2 separate regions of the Homo sapiens genome follow, and region 1 is reported to be linked to region 2. The links are microRNA targets in miRTarBase. Many come from high-throughput screens and were not tested one by one. Region 2 holds a microRNA gene; the other region holds the end of a gene's coding sequence.

Region 1 (4,404 bases), not on the chromosome of region 2:
GTAAACCATTAATTCAATATTCTGAGACATGTTTATTACTGCTTTTTATGTTGTTGAAGTCTTATTAGAAATAGCCCAGGTGGTTTGATCATGATACAGTGCTACTTGAAAATATATCAAAGGTAAAAATTCTCTCAACTATACCTTGAATGTCTTTTTCCCTGTAGACTTCTGTAGAGAAGTACAATTGTGTTTTAAATGTCTATTTTGAACTTGATGGGATACCATTAATCTATATGTGGTTTGATGTGTAACTTACCTGATATTTTTGTTTTAACTTTTTAGGTCCACTATCCGAGCTTTGATCAAGAATTTTTCAATTGCTTCTTTTTTCCCTGCTTTCATCACACTGCTGTTTTTTCAGCATAATCGAACAGCTTATGACATTGTAGCAGGAACCATTGTGGTAAAAAGAAATGGGGTCAGATGATGCCCCCCAAAACCCTGATTTCCACACACTAAGACTAAATTATGTATCAAGGCCATCAGTATCCCTGGGTTACACTAATTGATGATTTAGAAATTAAAGCAGTCACTCCAGTGTGATGCAGGTGACTACTCTGAAAGTATTGATTATACTTGAATGCCAAAGAACTTGTCCAGAAGAAAAACCTGTTAAATTCAAGTATTAAAATTTTTAGATCAAAAAGGCAAATGATTTTATAAACAATGGACAATATATACTTTCTTAAGATCTAAGGTACTTTCTTAAGATCTAAGAATTTGCTGAAAGCATTTTCAGCTTTGAAATCTCCAAATGAAACTTTAAAATTTATTTTGGTTTATCCCAAAATAATGGAAAATGTCCAGTTGTGTTTTGTAAACACCTATGTAACTCATCTTTTAGTTTACACTTCCTGGGGAAATTGTCTTTGGTGTTTAGAGGAGGGAATGAGAACACAAATTGGATAATCCACTGTCTCCCATCCCAGGAGGTGGTGAGTTGGCTACAAGAGAAAGGGACAAGTGAGGCAGGCCTAGCAGTTCCCTTACCTGAAGTTTTCAAATCCATACTGCAGTTCCCTCTCGTAATGATGTAACTTTACAACTATTCTTAATGCTTGAACATGTATTTAGGGGCAAGTTTCTCATGATGATGAAAAAGTATCAAGTCATATTGCTATGTTAATTGGTTTTTTTTTTTAAAAGGTAAGTTAGTGATTACTGTTAATGGTGGGGGAGTAAGTTTTCACTGTAAATTGAACTTATAATTTATGTGCAAGTGTTTTCAGTGCCCTGAATCAAACTATAAATGTGGGGAGAAATCACCTCCATCAAACAGTTGCATATTTACTGTAAAAGTATTCCCAGTATGTGTGCAGCATGAAGAAAGTATTAGTGCTTCTCAGTGTTCTCAGTGTAAATTCTATTTATATACAGCATATTCACATACTACTTTCCTTATATTTTATATAGTTCTATGACTGTTGAAACATCAAGGAGTTAAAAAAATCTTAATATTTCATGATTAACTCTAAGTACTATTAATTAATAGCTTGCGAAATATTAGCAATTTTCCCATTATGGACTATTCTCTCTAAAGCAAGAGAGACTAGCATTCCCAGACATCATTCTAGGGTCTTTAAGCTCATTTTGGGTCTGCTAAAGTTTGGGGGGAAATGTTACGCAAAGTGATACTGTGTATGTTGCCATTTTGCTTTATTCTTCTGTTGAAGCAAAATTGTGGGGTTTTATTATGTGTGTGTGCTTTTCCTAGATGTCCCAGTTAGCTGTGCTGAGATATACCTGTACTATTTATGGTTTAAGTTTTGATTCTTAGGTATTTTCTCCAGCTCTGACATTGTTTTCCAAAGACACACTAAACTGCATTGCACAGTTCAAAATTTGATTACTTAAGGGATCAATCTAGGTGGTGTTCTTGGTCTTAAATTTAACAGCAAACACAGCACATATCTATTATCACTATATTAATTTTCAAAGGTTTTTCTTTGACGTTTAAAACTGTGACAACAGATATTCACATTTGATTATAGAAACTTAATGTCTATTAATAATTTTAGTACAAAATTTCATAAACCGTGTTTTTCAAAATAAGTTTATGTCAAATCCAGCTTCCCAGAAACACTAATAATTAAGTACATCAATGTACTAAATAAATCATTCAGTTGCACCCATGGGGAAGATTGTGTTACTGCCCTTCACAGTGAAAAAAAGAAAAATCTTTCATTTTTAAAATTAGGAGATGTTACGTAACTTGGCACTTTAGTAGTGTATACACTAGCATTAGTTTATACACCACTTTTGCCGCTGGGGAATTCAAGTTGAAATGTCCCTCAATCATATAGGTCTGGAATACATCTTTCATTCATAATTTCTGCTCAGATAATTGAATAGTTTGCCATCGAGATTATTTTCATTTATACTATAAAACAAAAGCAAACTAGTCCAGTTTAATTTTTTGTACTTAGAATATTGCACATTTTCTATATATGAGTTATTCAGATTAGTATCTATGTAGGTTCAGTCAGATCCAACCATGGATTCGAGGTATTATACTGTATAACCCTACAAAATACATAGAAGTATTATTTGCCTTCATAATAGAACCCAAGAGTCTGTTTCAATTTATGAATTCAGTATTTGCACCGAGATTTTGATTCCCAAAGTTTGGAAAAAAATGACAAAACAACGAGGGAAGAAGGAACCAGACCTTAGTGCCACATATTTTTCTCTTGGGGTTGTAAGGTAGTCTCCTGCTTTCCAGAACACTTTATTATATTTCACTTATAGACCTGATTTTCTGTGTCAAAGTATAATTCTCATGCTGAAGCTGTAGCCTAAAAAGCCAAAAGAAAGTTGTCTTCATTGTACAAACATATTCATCACTTTAACAATAAGGGAACAAAATTTAGTATTCAAGCTGAGTGAGAATACTGTTTCAATGAGCATGTCCCTAAGATAAACCAGAATTGGCAGTTAATTTAGGCGTCTAGAAAATCTCAGTTCCCACCAGTAAAATTATCCTGAGTAGCTAATGCACCTTGAGAAAAATCTGGCATACTGAATAAATAACATTAACTTGGGAGCCAAGAGCTGGGTAAGCCTTACCTTTAGACTACTCTGTGACTACAGAAATAAAGCCAGCACTTTTGGAACTAATAAGCCTTCACTTGTCAGTATCATAAAGAGTATTGCCCAACTGAACTTTGCTCCCACTGGTTTAATAGTTACTTATTTCTGCCTAAGCACTCACCTTCCGATTTTACCCAAGTATATATATAGGATAGAAAAAAATGCATTATATTTGAGAGCTACTTCGCCCAAATTACAAAATGAGTGTTTTTAGATTCAAGTGACAGTAAAAGGATTTGTTCCCTTCAGTGACTTGAGTGTTTTAGTTATGCATAAGTATTTCTAGCAAAGGAAGGGTAGAAAGGAATTGAAAATTAATTTACACTAGTTGCTACTTGGGAATAAAGGGCTTTTTGAGGGGGGTATGGATATTAAATGTTTTCGTTATATACTTATCCCTATTAAAACAGGCAGTTGTTTCTTTGAATATGCCTAAATAACAGTATTCTTAAAATCTGACAGACAAGTAACATGTCAATTACTTGATATTCCTTGTCTCCAGTACCACAGGCCACTCTTGACATCCCATGTTTGCCTGGATAAAGTTCCTCATTTCAAACAGTATACATACTTCTTTGCAGTTCATTATAGTAAGGCTTAACCTGTAAACAGTATCTGATGGCCCACCTATAAATAAAATTCAGCATTCTATTTTTAATAATTTGTATGCCACCAATTTGTATTATTTGTCTCAATAAATACTTAGTCATCAATGCATCTGTATTTTGTCTATTTCTTTGAGACAGTTTGCTCTAGAATCTGCTTAGGGAGACCTTGCCTCCAAATACAGGTTTTCCAGTGGGTTTAGCAGTAAACTAGAATGCTTTCAGAAATAGAGATCTATGAAAAAAGAATCGCCCATCTTTAAGGATATATTCTTTTAGCAGGCACACTCAGAAGTTACCTGTACATGAATTAAGCTTACTATTAAACTAATCCAGTCCTTCAAGAGTTGTTAACCATCACAACCACCACACAAGTCTCATCTGGGCAATTTAAACCCAGTTCTGACCTTAAAAGCCTTTCCCATTCTAACAACTTTTATGAACAGGTCCAGAGAGAAGGCAGGAAGCAAAACAACGGGTTCCTCACTCAACAGGGGCAAAGATAATAAAGGATAAACTAGACTGTAGCTAAAAGATGGTCCAAGTCCTGTAGACAATGTGCTGCTGTTATGAGCCTAGCCACAAACTTGTTTTAGAACTACAGTAGATTTTTGAGACAAGTTTACAAAGGTGCCCTATATTACAAAAGGAAGTCTCTGACCGACATGGTCATACAGCTGATGCGTGTAGCTAGACCTACTACCTC
Region 2 (4,404 bases):
TTCAGTATCATTAGCCTTCTGACTCCTGTGTTCTCTTACCTCTCTTGCTGCTGTTCATAGCACAAACTATGAATATCAGAATTCTCACAAGCTATGTTTTTTATTTGGGAATTCAGAACTGCAATGATAAACCCATGGTTTAAGTATTGCAATTTAGAATTCCCAAATAAAAATCATAGCTTGTGAGAACTTAGTGTATATAGATCCAGTGACTTGAAAATGTTGCAAAAAGTTATTGAATTAGGATTTTACCTAATTCAATACTTGTGAACCAAAGGGAAAATATTATTTAGGGCCTTAAAAAGATTATAAACCTAACTTTGCTAACCCACAGAATGACCAGAAACCTGCTAATTGAGATTACTAGGTTTGTAATTTGAAAATCGCGGGGAGAGGATCAAGCAGGAGTAGCAGTGGTTGGAGGCTCAGATACCCCATTTTACAGTGTGAGTTACATGTATCTCTTTCTTTTTTGTTGATGGTTGCCCACCAGGTCTGATCATTTAAAGTATATGAGTTTGGCTGTGCTTATTTCAGCTGTAGACTTGCCCGTAGGTGTTTAGTTTGGCTTAAAAGTCGTCTTACCTTACTTGGAGGGTATAAAGCCAAGTGAACTAGTTTCTCCCCAGGCTAATTTTTCACACCGCTCTTCTTTGTTACAGAGAAATGATATCGCCATGGCAATTACAAAATTTGATCAGTTTGATTTTCTCATCGATATTGTTCCAAGAGATGAACTGAAACCTCCAAAGCGTCAGGTGAGCTGTGAAGGGATTGCAGTTGCTGCTGACTGAAGAGCGCTTTGTATACTGGTGTCAGATACGCTCCTTCTCTCTCAGCACAAGTCATTTGCTATTCCTTTTGCTTCTCGTTTCTAGACCAGATTCATTCTTAACATCTCCTTCTGTTACTCATTTCTGGATACTTTTAACTCAGTGCCTCCGAAGTGGTATTTCAGTGAAAATAGACAAAATGAAAATGAAAGACTTTAGTTACAAATGGTAAAGTTAAGCTCATTTCAAGTTATCTTAGGAAGTCTATCAGAGCTCTTCATCTGGGATAGGAGAATATTCCCAGAAAGTTATAGATTTTAGATTTTTAAGAAACAGCTTCTCTATGTGCACAGTGGCATTTGGAGTGAATGGACTATGTTTTCTCTTCCTCTATATTGTGGTTCATTATATCTTTATATAGTACCCTGACTGCACACTAGAATCACCTGTTGGGGTTTTAAAAATATCAGCGCCCAGGCTCTAACCCACATCAGCTGAATCAGAATCTCATGATGGAGCCCAGGCATCAGTACCTTTTAAAACTCCCTGGATGCTTTTAATGTGCAGTCAGATTTGAGAACCACCACTTGAGCTGTTTTGCAAGCAATCACAAGAAAGAATATGAACGTCTGCCTTCCCGTCTCTTCTGCCTGCCCCTCTCCAAAGGTCACACTAGTTGTTTTTTCAGCACCTTGGGTGCATATAGCTCTTAATTGTGATTGTAATAGACCTCTGTCCTTTAGAGCTCATTGTTTTAAGCATGCAGATTGCATGATTCACTAGGTGCCACTTGGGAAATTGTGGCAGAATCTCACAGGAGCAAAGCTGTGCCTTGTTCTGCTTGCTTTGTTATATAAAACTTTATTTTTAATGAATTATTTCATAGTATATTATCCTTAGAAGCAGTCATTCAGTGACAGCCATTCTCCCCATCCCAGCCTGTATTAATAACCAGTCAGAGAAAGTCTAGGAGAAGTGGGCATCCTAATGAACATTTGTAATTCTGACCCTGCATGAGGGCCTTTGGATTAGCAAGCCCTCTGTCACCTCCTTACTAGAGTAGGGTGTGCCTCACTGCGTCTCCGTTCTTTCTGGGCAGTCTTTGCTACTGTAAACATCCTTGACTGGAAGCTGTAAGGTGTTCAGAGGAGCTTTCAGTCGGATGTTTACAGCGGCAGGCTGCCACGGTCGTCCCCAGCTACGCACCGGCTTTGAAACATTGCAGGTTTGTGCCCACAGGCTCAATTCCTCCTCTTGGGGGTCCTTCCCTCCTCTCTCAGAAGTCACAACAAGAACTCAGGCCATTTATCTTCCTTCAGAACAAAGAGTATCATACACCTGCTTTCCTTGTTGAAATTGTTTTCTCCTTTTGTCTATCAGAAGCCCCCTTTAAAACAAGATTGTGAGCTCTGTGATGAAATCAGGCCTTGCTCACTCTCATTGTGCTAACTCCTTGTTTTCTGTGGGCTGCCTGCTGAATACACTGGCTGGAGAGAAGGGTCACATCCTGTCAGTTCCTCCAAATTCCTCAGTGCTTCTGGGTCTCTCGGGGTGTCATACAGCTCCTTATTCCATCTTAGCCAGACTCAAAATGCTATGATCCATCTGATTTTAAAGTGTGTCTAGCTGAAACAGCTTCTTGTTGCTTGGATTTAGTTCTTTGTAGGTGTTCGAGGCATTGATTGGCATCGTATTCGGGACAGCTGCTGCCTGGCCTTTGAAAGGTTGAGATTGCTGAAAGCTGGCCTGAAATTCTAAGATAGCATTTTTAATCCTCTGTAGACATGAAGTTTTCCCAGGCTTCAAATTGGCTGGCACCTCCTAAAGTCCTTTAAAACGCCTACTCTCCAAAACCCACCCTTTCTGAAGGAGGCAGCAGTTCACTCTTGCTACTAAAGCGAATGTACTTTTTTCCAGTCAGGGCTGGTTGCACAACACTGTAGAGATGGCCCTAGGATGTGATGCTGCTCTTCTCTGGCACTGTTCGTCAGTCTCAGCTTCTGGAAAGATTCCAAGAGCAAGCCCTGTAGTTGGGGAGGCCACTGCTAAAGTTGAGCAAGTGCCCCATTCTGGATTGATCCAGTCATTAAAGCATTGTTCTGCCACTTGGGGCAACCTCCCACTGCTGGGAAAAGGAACTAGTCAGAAATACTGAATTGTGAGTCCAAGGCCCTGACTTCTCAAAGATACTTGAGAGTTTCGCTTGTTCTTCAGAGAAGCAAGTAAAGATTATTTGAAGGTAGGAGGTAGTTGAGGCCTGACTTCTGCCCCACTAAAGCTATTGAGTTGAAAGTTCCTGCCCATTGAAATGTCATTATCTTTTCACCCATTTCTTTAAACCAAGCATAATCATTTCCTTGCTGGCTTGACCTCCATTGGCAGAATGAGTCTTCATAATGCAGAAGAGCCTTAGATATGCCTTCTTCCATTCCAGTGATTTGAGAACAGTTGTGCCTTGTCCTAACAACACAAACCTAGGTGCCTCCACTTGATTCTCAGTGTCCTAGATACTGTCTAGTTCATAAACAGTTTAAGAGGATGTAGTAAGCAGCATAGGAGGAGCTCTTGTCCTGCTCTCACAGCTTTTGGCAAGAGATATTTTGGGTTCTGGAAGGGGTTTTTAAAGGGTTTGCTTTTTGTCTGACAAAAAGATCATATTCAATACTAGATCAGCTGTAGTTGGGGATAACTGGAGACTAAACAATCACAGGTCACGGCTAGAAAATGCAGGTGTCTCCCTGCTGCCTAGCTTCCTACACAGCTGGTTCTGAGGCTCTCATTCCTGTATACCCTCTCATTACCCAAGAGCTTTTCCAAGTTAGGTCTGGATTTCAGTGATTTGTGCTTTTTGTAAAATAATAAGGGAGATCTCAGTGGAACACAAGTACCTTGAACCTACTTCAATAGCTTTGCAAAGAGCAGTTGGCTTCTGTTTCTTGGCTGCAAAAGGTATCAGTATTTTAGCTTTGCCACAGCCAATACCTAGTTTCCAGGCTGACATTTATTTATAATGATGATAAGTTGGGGTTGAAATTGTTGTGGAAATTGAGACCTAGATGAAAATAAAAGGGAATCTCCTTTTCCTTCTGCCTTAGCATAATCATATTGAGGGTTAAAACTATTTGTGTCTGAAGCACAGACTATATCAACCTAAAAAGTCAGTTCATATATTAACTTAGAAACCCAGAATGTTACAGGTATCTCCCTAAGCTGGGTAGATGGCTGTCAAGTAACCATGTCATGCAGAGACCCATGTTTCTCAGGGGTAGATACTGGCAGTCCTAGTTTTAGTATCCTAGCCCCCAGACATCAGGCAAACAAAGGATACTCAGCTCTGTTCCACAGGGGACACTAGCTGCTTCCTCACACTGTGGCCACAGAGTCTTAGAGGTACCAAAAGAGAGTTTAGAGACTACTTTTTTCTATTGGTAACAGCTGTTGGGTTTAAGAGAATTTGTCATATCAGCAAGTTGGATTCAGAGAACTACTTTCCTGCCTCTAACTGTCTGCCTGTCTAAATCCATTCATCATTCATCACGCACTTACTGAGTGCCTACCTGGGAACGCGGGGGATAGCAGAGAGCAAGAGAGAGCTAGGCTTTGCCCTCATGGTGCTTAACATTTTAGTAGA

What was found. The annotated mature microRNA hsa-miR-30e-5p reads UGUAAACAUCCUUGACUGGAAG and lies in region 2 at 1,883-1,904, shown strand. An mRNA with a match to its seed (bases 2 to 7 or 8) in the 3' UTR can be bound and repressed. Matches are read on the target gene's strand: a 7mer-m8 pairs with bases 2 to 8, a 7mer-A1 pairs with bases 2 to 7 and ends in A, and an 8mer does both.
Region 1: miRTarBase lists FAM8A1 as a target of hsa-miR-30e-5p. Seed matches in the 3' UTR shown: 7mer-A1 at 847-853.

What each region holds. Positions count from the first base shown.
Region 1 is chr6:17,607,910-17,612,313 of GRCh38, forward strand. FAM8A1 (family with sequence similarity 8 member A1) reads left to right here. Exons shown (of 5, transcript NM_016255.3): 5 at 286-3,806. The coding sequence ends at 430. Among named protein-coding and RNA genes, the nearest start is that of FAM8A1, 9.8 kb to the left of the region's middle. RefSeq lists silencers at 2,715-2,915, 4,075-4,275.
Region 2 is chr1:40,752,489-40,756,892 of GRCh38, forward strand. It overlaps MIR30E (microRNA 30e), which reads left to right and starts at 1,867; the gene lies at 1,867-1,958. NFYC (nuclear transcription factor Y subunit gamma) reads left to right here. Exons shown (of 10, transcript NM_014223.5): 5 at 663-758.